Regions from separate parts of the Homo sapiens genome. Here region 1 is linked to region 2. Evidence: fine-mapped expression QTL. A gene starts in region 2. The other region holds a variant in brackets. All regions are shown on one strand. Distances are between the middles of the regions. Region 1 overlaps LOC107987053 (a long non-coding RNA gene). Region 2 holds the start of KLHL9 (kelch like family member 9).

Region 1 (5,385 bases), 61 kb after region 2:
AAGCAATATCCTCAATAAATTGACTTCTAAACATACAATTGCAAATGTGTATTTCCAGTCAGATATATGAATTTGCAATTTTCAAGAAATACAATGCCTGAAGGTTCATAACTGGCAATGGAAAGCCCAAAAATAGAGGCAGTCATGTGGAGAGGAAAAAGAAAAGTAAAGGAAAAAAGAACCTAAAATTGATTCTGAGGACCTTCCACCTTTAAAGAGAGGGGATATAAGAGACACAAAGGAAGCAAGGGTGGAAAACTGTACATTAGTGAAGGAAAGACTTAATGGTGATAAATGTGTGTCTTGAAAATAAATGTATTTAGAAGAAGAATCAATAGACTTGGGGGAAATATGGATTAAAACTGTCCACTACATCAGAAAAATAAATGGCAGTGGAGATCTTAGTGAGAGCTGCATTGGTAGAATTAATCACTATAAACCGTATTGCAGTAGGTGGAAGCATGAATCAAAGAAGGGAAATCTGTGACAAAATAGATAAGAAATAGTTGTGAGAGGTTTCCCTTTAAGATAAAGGAAAGAAATAAGGTTAGACATGAAAAAAAAAGTGGATCACATTTCATTTTACCTGCATGGTTTATCCGTTTGAAAATATATATGTCTGCAGATTGATTTCATGCATTGAAAAGCTGTTAATATACTTAATATTTTATAATATCAAATTATAACATATAAAGTTGCAATAATTATAATTTTGATTAGTACTATGTTAATTGTCAGTAAAACCTGACAAACTTCCTTCATAAAATAAAATGGAAAACTGGATGAAAGAATCGCTTTCTCAACGCTTTAAGAAAACAAAAAAAGATTGGTCACAAGTATCAATAGCCAAATCAATCAAGTGGAAGAAACGATATCAGAGATTGAAGATCAACTTAATGAAATAAAGTGTGAAGGCAAGATTAGAGAAAAAAGAATGAAAAGAAATGAACAGACTCTAAGAAATATGGGACTACGTGAAAAGACCAAACGTACGTTTGATTCGTGTACCTAAAAGTGAAGGGGAGAATGGAACCAAGTTGGGAAACACTCTTCAGGATATTACCCAGGAGAACTTCCCCAACCTGGCAAGACAGGTCAACATTCAAATTCAGGAAACACAGAGAACACCACAAAGGTACTCCTTGAGAAAAGCAAACTCAATACACATAATCGTCAGATTCACCAAGGCTGAAATGAAGGAAAAAATGTTGAGGGCAGCCAGAGAGAAAGGTCGGATTACCCAAAAAGAGAAGCCCATCAGATCAACAGTGCATCTCTCTGCAGAAACTCTACAAGCCAGTAAAGAGTGGGGCCCAATATTCAACATTCTTAAAAGAATTTTCAACCCAGAATTTCATATTCAGTCAATCTAAGCTTCATAAGCAAAGGAGAAATAAAATTCATTACAGAAAAGCAAATGCTGAGAGATTTTGTCACCACTAGGCCTGCCCTACAAGAGCTCCTGAAGGAAGCACTAAATATGAAAAGGAAAAACCAGTACCAGTCACTACAAAAACATATCAAATTGTGAAGACCATTGAAACTATGAAGAAACTGCATCAACTAATGGGCAAAATAACCAGCTAGCATCATTATGACAGGATCAAATGCACACATAACAATATTAACCTTAAATGTAAATGGGAAAAATGCCCCAATTAAAAGACACAGACTGGCAAATTGGATAGAGTCAAGACCCATCGGTGTGCTGTATTCAGGAGACCCATCTCACATGCAAAGACACATAAACTCAAAATAAAGGGATGGAGGAATATTTACCAAGCAAATGGAAAGCAAAAAAAAAAAAAAAAAAAAAAAAAAAGCTGGGGTTGCAATTCTGGTCTCTGATAAAACAGACTTTAAACCAACAAAGATCAAAAAGAAAAAGAAGACAAAGAAGGGCTTTACATAATGTTAAAGGGATCAATGCAACAAGAAGAGCTAACTATTCTAACTATATATGCACCCAATACTGGAGCACCCAGATTCATAAAGCAAGTTCTTAGAGACCTACAAAGAGGTTTAGACTCCCACACAATAATAGTGGGAGAATTTAACACCCCACTGTCAATATTAGACAGATCAACAAGACAGAAAATTAACAAGGATATTCAGGACTTGAACTCAGCTCTGGACCAAGCAGACCTAATAGACATCTGCAGAACTTTCCACCCCAAATTAACAGAATACACATTCTTCTCAGCATCACGTCACACTTATTCTAAAATTGACCACATAATTGGAAATAAAACACTCCTCAGTAAACGCAAAAGAATGGAAATCAAAACAAACAGTCTCTCAGACCACAATGCAATCAAGTTAGAACTCGGGATTAAGAAACTCACTCAAAACCCCACAACTACATGGAAACTGAACAACCTGCTCCTGAATGGCTACTGGATAAATAATGAAATTAAGGCAGAAGTACATAAGTTCTTTGAAACCAATTAGAACAAAGACACAGTGTACCAGAATCTCTGAAACA[C/T]GGCTAAAACAGTGTTTAGAGGAAAATTTATAGCACTAAATGCCCACAGGAGAAAGCAGGAAGGATCTAAAATCGACACCCTAACATCACAATTAAAAGAACTAGAGAAACAGGAGCAAACAAATTCAAATGCTAGCAGAAAACAACAAATAACTAAGATCAGAGTGTAACTGAAGGAGATAGAGACACGAAAAACCCTTCAAAGAATCAGTAAATCCAGGAGCTGGTTTTTTGGACAGATTAACAAAATAGATAGACCGCTGGCCAGACTAACAAAGAAGAAAAGAGAGAAGAATCAAATAGACACAATAAAAAATGATAAAGAGGATATCATCACTGATCCCACAGAAATACAAACTACCATCAGAGAATACTATAAACACCTCTGTGCAAATAAACTAGAAAATCTAGAAGAAATGGATAAATTCCTGGACACACACACCCTCCCAAGACTAAACTAGGAAGAAGTTGAATCCCATTTCAGCTTTCTACATATGGCTAGCCAGTTTTCCTAGCACCATTTATTAAACAGGGAATCCTTTCTCCATTTCTTGTTTTCGTCAGGTTTGTCAAAGATCAGATGGTTGTAGATGTGTGGTATTATTTCTGAGGGCTCTGTTCTGTTCCATTGGTCTATATCTCTATTTTGGTACCAGTACCATGCTGTTTTGGTTACTGTAGCCTTGAAGTATAGTTTGAAGTCAGGTAGCGTGATGCCTCCAGCTTTGTTCTTTTGACTTAGGATTGGCTTGGCAATGCGGGCTCTTTTCTGGTTCCATATGAACTTTAAAGTAGTTTTTTCCAATTATGTGAAGAAAGTCATCAGTAGCTTGATGGGGATGGCATTGAATCTATAAATTACCTTGGGCAGTATGGCCATTTTCACGATATTGATTCTTCCTACCCATGAGCATGGAATGTTCTTCCATTTGTTTGTATCCTCTTTTATTTCATTAAGCAGTGGTTTGCAGTTCTCCTTGAAGAGGTGCTTCACATCCCTTGTAAGTTGGATTCCTAGGTATTTTATTCTCTTTGAAGCAATTGTGAATGGGAGTTCACTCATGATTTGGCTCTCTGTCTGTTACTGGTGTACAGGAATGCTTGTGATTTTTGCACATTGATTTTGTATCCTGAGACTGCTTAAGTTGCTTATCAGCTTAAGGAGATTTTGGGCTGAAGTGTTTGGGTTTTCTAAATATGCAATCATGTCTTCTGCAAACAGAGACGATTTGACTTCCTCTTTTCCTAATTGAATACCCTTTATTTCTTTCTCCTGCCTGATTTCCCTGGCCAGAACTTCCAACATTATGTTGAATAGGAGTGGTAAGAGAGGGCAGAACAAAAATTAATTCAAGATGAATTAAAGACTTAAATGTTAGACCTAAAACCATAAAAACCCCAGAAGAAAACCTAGGCAATACCATACAGGACATAGGCATGGGCAAGGACTTCATGACTACAACACCAAAAGCAATGGCAACAAAAGTCAAAATTGACAAATGGGATCTAATTAAACTAAAGAGCTTCTGCACAGCAAAAGAAACTACCATCAGATTGAACAGGCAACCTACAGAATGGGAGAAAATTTTTGCAATCTACCCATCTGACAAAGGGCTAATATCAAGAATCTACAAAGAACTTAAGCAAATTTACAAGAAAAAAATCAAACAACCCCATCAAAAAGTGGGCAAAGGATAGGAACAGACGCTTCTCAAAAAAAGACATTTATGCAGCCAACAAACACATGACAAAATGCTCATCATCACTGGCCATCAGAGAAATGCAAATCAAAACCAAAATGAGATACCATCTCACACCAGTTAGAATGGCGATCATTAAAAAGTCAGGAAGCAACAGGTGCTGGTGAGGATTTGGAGAAATAGGAATACTTTTATACTGTTGGTGGGGCTGTAAACTAGTTCAACCATTGCGGAGGGCAGCATGGCGATCAGAGCTAGAAATACCATTTGAACCAGCCATCCCATTACTGGGTATATACCCAAAGGATTATAAATCATGCTGTTACAAAGACACATGCACACTTATGTTTATTGTGGCACTATTCACAATAGCAAAGACTTAGAGCCAACCCAAATGTCCATCAATGATAGACTGGATTAAGAAAATGTGGCATATATACACCATGGAATACTATGCAGTCATAAAAAAGGAGGAGTTCATGTCATTTGTAGGGACATGGATGACGCTGTAAACCATCATTCTCAGCAAACTATCGCTAGGACAGAAAACCAAACTCTGCATGTTCTCACTCATAGGTGGGAATTGAACAACGAGAACACTTGGACACAGGAAGGGGAACATCACATACTGGGGCCTGTTGTGGGGTTGGGGGAGTGGGGAGGGATAGCATTAGGAGATATACTTAATGTAAATGGCGAGTTAATGGGTGCAGCACACCAACATAGCACATGTATACATATGTAACAAACCTGCACATTGTGCACATGTACCCTAGAACTTAAAGTATAATAAAAAAAAAATTGAAAAAAAAAAGAAGTCGAATCCCTGAGTAGACCAATAACAACTTCTGAAATTGAGGCAGTAATTAATAGATTACCAACAAAAAAAGTCCAGGACAAGACGGATTCACAGCCAAATTGTACCAGAGGTACAAAGAGGAGCTGGTACCATTCCTTCTGAAACTATGCCAAACAATAGAAAAAGAAGGGCTCCTCCCTAACTCATTTTATGAGGTCAGCATCATCCTAATACCAAAAACTGGCAGAGACACATCAAAAAAAAAGAAATGTCAAGTCAATATCTCTGATGAACATCAATGCAAAAATCCTCAATAAAATACTGGGAAACCAAATCCAGCAACACATCAAAGAGCTTATCCACCAAGACCAAGTCGGCTTCATTCCTGGGATGCAAGGCTG
Region 2 (5,385 bases):
TGGCATTGATTTATTGAGTAAGGCCAGGTATGGTGGCTCATGCCAGTAATCCCAGCAGTGTGGGAGGCTGAGGTGGGAGGATTGTTGAGGCTAGGAGTTTGAGGCTGTAGTGAGCTATGAACCTGCCACTGCACTCCAGCTTAGTGACAGAGCAAGACCTTGTGTTTGTTTTTTTTAAATAAACAAATGCAAAATGATCTGAAAGTAAAACTCGAAATAATAAAGAGAATAATTTTCAAAATATAAAGTGAGGGGCCAGGCATGGTGGCTCACGCCTGTAATCCCAGCACTTTGGGAGGCTGAGGCAGGCGGATCACAAGGTCAGGAGTTTGAGAGCAGACTGGCCAGCATGGTGAAACTCTATCTCTACTAAAAATACAAAAAATTAGCTGGGCATGGTGGCGCGCACCTGTAGTCCCAGCTACTCGGGACGCTAAGGCAGGAGAATTGCTTGACCCTGGGAGGCGGAGGTTGCAGTGAGCCGAGATCGCACCACTGTACTCCAGCCTGGGTGACAGAGCGAGACTCCGTCAAAACAAAACAAAACAAAACAAACAAACAAAATATACATAAAGTGAACACTTTTTAATGTAATTAGCACAGTGTTAAAAGTGAACATTTCATACAAGCAAAAATACTGAATACAATAAATGTAGTAGAATCAATAATTAAGTACATGGGTAAATTAATAATATCATCCATGGTGAGCTAATGCCCCTAAGAACTGGATGCTTTATCATACAGTTGCTTGACATTACCAACAAGTATTGTGACAAATTTGATTCAATCATTTCATTATGCAGGCAGAAAAGATAGTCTTTTAAAATAACTAAACATATGGGAATATAATGAAGAGTGTCTATAGTAATCATTTCATGAAGACACAAGTCTGTTCCTAAGCTATTAATCTTACTTGCAAGTTTGATGAAAAAAAGAAGGATCTCATGATTTCTTGCTCCAACTTCCCATGTACAGAGGCTCTCTTCTTTCTTTTCCAGATAGAGACTGATTCCTTGGAAGTAGCTCTTCACAGCATTAGGGAGTTGTCATGGCCTGAGAGAGCCCTTCCACCCCTAACTCATTCAACAAGCAGGGCTCCAGGACTTCCCAATGCTGATAAAAATTCAGTGAATAATTTCTCCAGGCCAGTTTCATTCCAACCAACCTCTTGTGTTGAATAAGGTGACAATCTGCTGGAGCACCTTGTGGAGGACAGTGGTAGTCTAAGCCTTCTGAATTTTGCTGCCATCCCTTGGAAACAATAGAAAACATTCAAAACAGATGAACTGCCCATCAACAGGGCACTGGTTAAATAACTTATGATGTAACAACTCAGAAGGCAACAACAGAATTGTTTAAAAATATAAATAAGCCCTCTACACTAATTCAGGAAGATCTTGAAGTGAAAAAAAAAGATGCAGAACAGTGTACATGGTATGCTATCTTTTACATAAAAACGAGGCGAGTGTAAGAAAAACATGACTACATTCTTACTTTGCATATGCATAAAGAACTAGAAGGATTTAAAAGACAGAAACTTCAAAATTTGGAAAATGGAAGAAATTGTGTCAAAGTATACATTTATTTGTATGTCAAAATTTAAATTTACCACTAATTAAAGAAATGCAAGTTAATAAAATACTCACAAAGGGAAAAGTCAGAAGAAGGGAAAGACACAAACATTGTTGGTGATAATATTTTGGAAATATTGTCTTGGATCAGTATTTTACTAAATATTATCCATAACAGGGCTAAAATTTTGCTACCAGATTGTATAAGTTTACTACCGAGTCTATAAAACAATGGAGGATAAGAAGGTACACATTCAGGAACAAACCAATGGGCAAAGGAAACTATAGTATGTATAGTTATTGGAAAATTATGTAGCCATTTTTAAAATTGTGGAAAACAAAGGCATTTCAAGCCAAAAATTTAGAATATATCATTTACATAATAAAGTAACAATCTAGTAAAGACAAATATTTTGCGTTTGAAATTGTAACAAATTTGAAAATATGAACCAAAATTGTAACTGAAGTATCTACTACATAATGTGGGATAACAATTATTGTTTTGTAGAGGAAAAAAAAAATTAAGCATCCAGGTTTCCTCTCAATTTATACAAATGCCGCATTTCACTGTTATTCAAAAAAACAGAAGCTAGGAAGCGTAAAGCTTTGAAAAATTATGCATTTGGGGAACGTAAGAGCTCAGATATGCGAAAAACTTATATCAAACGTGCAGCATAACACACTTGCTTGCACACATTCTGTCCTATTTGGTCCCACATACAAGGCAGCTCTAAGAGGCCGGGCTGGCGCCCACCCCACACAGCTCCGCTTCCCCAACCCTCGCCCTCCCGCCTCCCGGGTACTTCCTCCCCCTTCCCCACCCCCACCCTCCCGCTGACTGACGAGGTCTGGAGGCCGCGCAGCCGCAGTAGCCGCTAAGGCCGCTCCCACCCCGTGGTATCCTGGGACTAGGCTTTTCCGGAAGGAGCGGCTCGGTGTTGGGGCTAGGCCGGTATTCTAGGCCCAAGCCCAGGCCCAGGCCTGTGTTCCCGGCCCTTGCTCAAAGACAGGCCGGTGGCCGCTGCGACACTCTAGGTACAGCGGAGGGCGCAGCGGGCCGTTCGCTGAGGTGTCCGGACCCGCCGCCGAGCGGGCCGTGGAGCCACAGTACGTGGCGGCGCCTCTTCCTTGCCCGAAGCGGAACTGCTGAAGGAGCGGCAGCGCAGGCCGGACGAGGTGAACCAGGTCATTTAACCGCCTTCAGGTGATGAATCATCTGTCTAATAATCAGATTTGAGGTCCACAGCCCTTTGTGGTCCTGCTACAGGGTGATTTTCAGTGGATGACTGACTGGCGTGGCCCGAGGGGTGCCGCAGTGACTGCCTTCCCTTGATAAGGAAACGAGCTTTCTGTTCTTTCTGGACACCTCGTTACCTGTAAAACATTCCGGTTATAACTTCTTTATCCGGCTTGCATCTCTGTGCAAGAGGAAAGCTTTCACATGAAAGTGTCCCTTGGTAACGGCGAAATGGGCGTCTCTGCCCATTTGCAGCCTTGTAAGGCAGGAACCACACGCTTTTTTACCAGCAATACTCACAGTTCGGTGGTATTGCAAGGCTTTGATCAGCTTAGAATAGAAGGATTGCTTTGTGATGTGACCCTGGTACCAGGTGATGGAGATGAAATCTTCCCTGTTCACAGAGCTATGATGGCGTCTGCTAGTGATTATTTCAAAGCCATGTTCACAGGTGGAATGAAAGAACAAGATTTGATGTGCATTAAGCTTCATGGGGTGAACAAGGTTGGTCTGAAGAAAATCATTGATTTTATTTATACTGCAAAACTTTCTCTTAATATGGACAATCTTCAGGACACACTTGAAGCTGCTAGCTTTTTACAAATATTACCCGTTTTGGATTTCTGTAAAGTATTTCTTATATCAGGAGTCTCTTTGGATAACTGTGTTGAGGTTGGACGAATTGCTAACACCTACAATCTTATAGAAGTGGATAAATATGTTAATAATTTCATCCTGAAGAACTTTCCTGCTTTATTGAGTACTGGGGAGTTTCTAAAACTCCCTTTTGAACGACTTGCATTTGTGCTTTCCAGTAATAGTCTTAAGCACTGTACCGAACTTGAACTCTTTAAGGCAGCCTGTCGCTGGCTAAGGTTGGAAGACCCTCGGATGGATTATGCTGCAAAGTTAATGAAGAATATTCGATTTCCACTGATGACACCACAGGATCTCATCAATTACGTGCAGACAGTAGATTTCATGAGAACAGACAATACCTGCGTGAATTTGCTTTTGGAAGCTAGCAATTACCAAATGATGCCATATATGCAGCCAGTGATGCAGTCAGATAGAACTGCCATTCGATCTGACTCCACTCACTTGGTTACATTAGGAGGAGTTTTGAGGCAGCAGCTGGTTGTCAGTAAAGAATTACGGATGTATGATGAAAGGGCACAAGAATGGAGATCTTTAGCCCCAATGGATGCTCCCCGTTACCAGCATGGTATTGCTGTCATTGGAAACTTTCTTTATGTAGTTGGTGGTCAGAGTAATTATGATACAAAAGGAAAAACTGCTGTTGATACAGTTTTCAGATTTGATCCTCGGTATAATAAATGGATGCAGGTTGCATCATTAAATGAAAAGCGCACATTCTTTCACTTGAGTGCCCTCAAAGGACATTTGTATGCAGTTGGTGGGCGCAGTGCAGCTGGTGAACTGGCCACAGTAGAATGTTACAACCCAAGAATGAATGAGTGGAGCTATGTTGCAAAAATGAGTGAACCCCACTATGGTCATGCTGGAACAGTATATGGAGGCTTAATGTATATTTCAGGAGGAATTACCCATGACACTTTCCAAAATGAGCTCATGTGTTTTGACCCAGATACAGATAAATGGATGCAAAAGGCTCCAATGACTACAGTCAGAGGTCTGCATTGCATGTGTACAGTTGGAGATAAGCTCTATGTCATTGGTGGCAATCACTTCAGAGGAACAAGTGATTATGATGATGTTCTAAGCTGTGAATACTATTCACCAACCCTTGACCAGTGGACCCCAATTGCCGCCATGTTAAGAGGCCAAAGTGATGTTGGAGTTGCCGTCTTTGAAAATAAAATCTATGTTGTTGGTGGATATTCTTGGAATAATCGTTGTATGGTAGAAATTGTCCAGAAATATGACCCAGAAAAAGATGAGTGGCATAAAGTTTTTGATCTTCCAGAGTCACTTGGTGGCATTCGAGCCTGTACACTCACAGTTTTTCCACCTGAAGAAAACCCTGGGTCACCTTCTAGAGAATCACCTCTTTCAGCACCTTCAGATCATTCTTAGGTCTAAGGTGTAACACCTTTGCAGTACGTCATGGGTGATCTAATACTTCCCCTTCAGTTGTATCTTCTTACAGTGATTGGTACAGTTATTAGATATAAAGGTAACTGATGTTATTCGTCTTGTATGGCTTTTAGTATGTTTATCAAGTGGCTAACAAATGCATTCTGAAAATGTATTTAACATAGCTGTTTTAACAAATGAAAAAAAGACGTAGAAAAATGTTTAGATGTCTTTTTGTGATGTTATATAAAATTGTAGATGACTGTGGTAAATGTGTAATTATGTCCATTATGCTTCAAAGTTGAGTTTTCATCTTTGACTCCAAAATGTCAGAGGGAGGCCGCTCTAAACTAAAAATAACGAAAGGTTGCCAAGTATTAATACTAGTTACCTCCCTCTTTTCGTAGTTTTTGTCATGTCTGTCAACTTACTCGATTGTGTGGTTGCATTCAGAATATTTGAAGTTTCTTACGTAGACAGAAATAATAAAAATATTAACTAGGAAAAAACAGTATAGCA

What was found.
Region 1: its variant is fine-mapped to the expression of KLHL9 in whole blood (INTERVAL, PIP above 0.99).

Annotation. Positions count from the first base shown.
Region 1 is chr9:21,271,949-21,277,333 of GRCh38, reverse strand. The region is part of intron 2 of LOC107987053 (a long non-coding RNA gene); the gene reads right to left. Among named protein-coding and RNA genes, the nearest start is that of IFNA5, 31 kb to the left of the region's middle. The variant C/T (reference allele first, on the strand shown) is at 2,486.
Region 2 is chr9:21,332,487-21,337,871 of GRCh38, reverse strand. It overlaps KLHL9 (kelch like family member 9), which reads left to right and starts at 2,468. Exons shown (of 1, transcript NM_018847.4): 1 at 2,468-5,385. The coding sequence starts at 3,013. The coding sequence ends at 4,866. LOC107987053 (a long non-coding RNA gene) reads right to left here. Exons shown (of 3, transcript XR_001746634.2): 3 at 571-1,251. RefSeq lists a silencer at 2,279-2,448 and enhancers at 2,489-2,798, 2,989-3,038.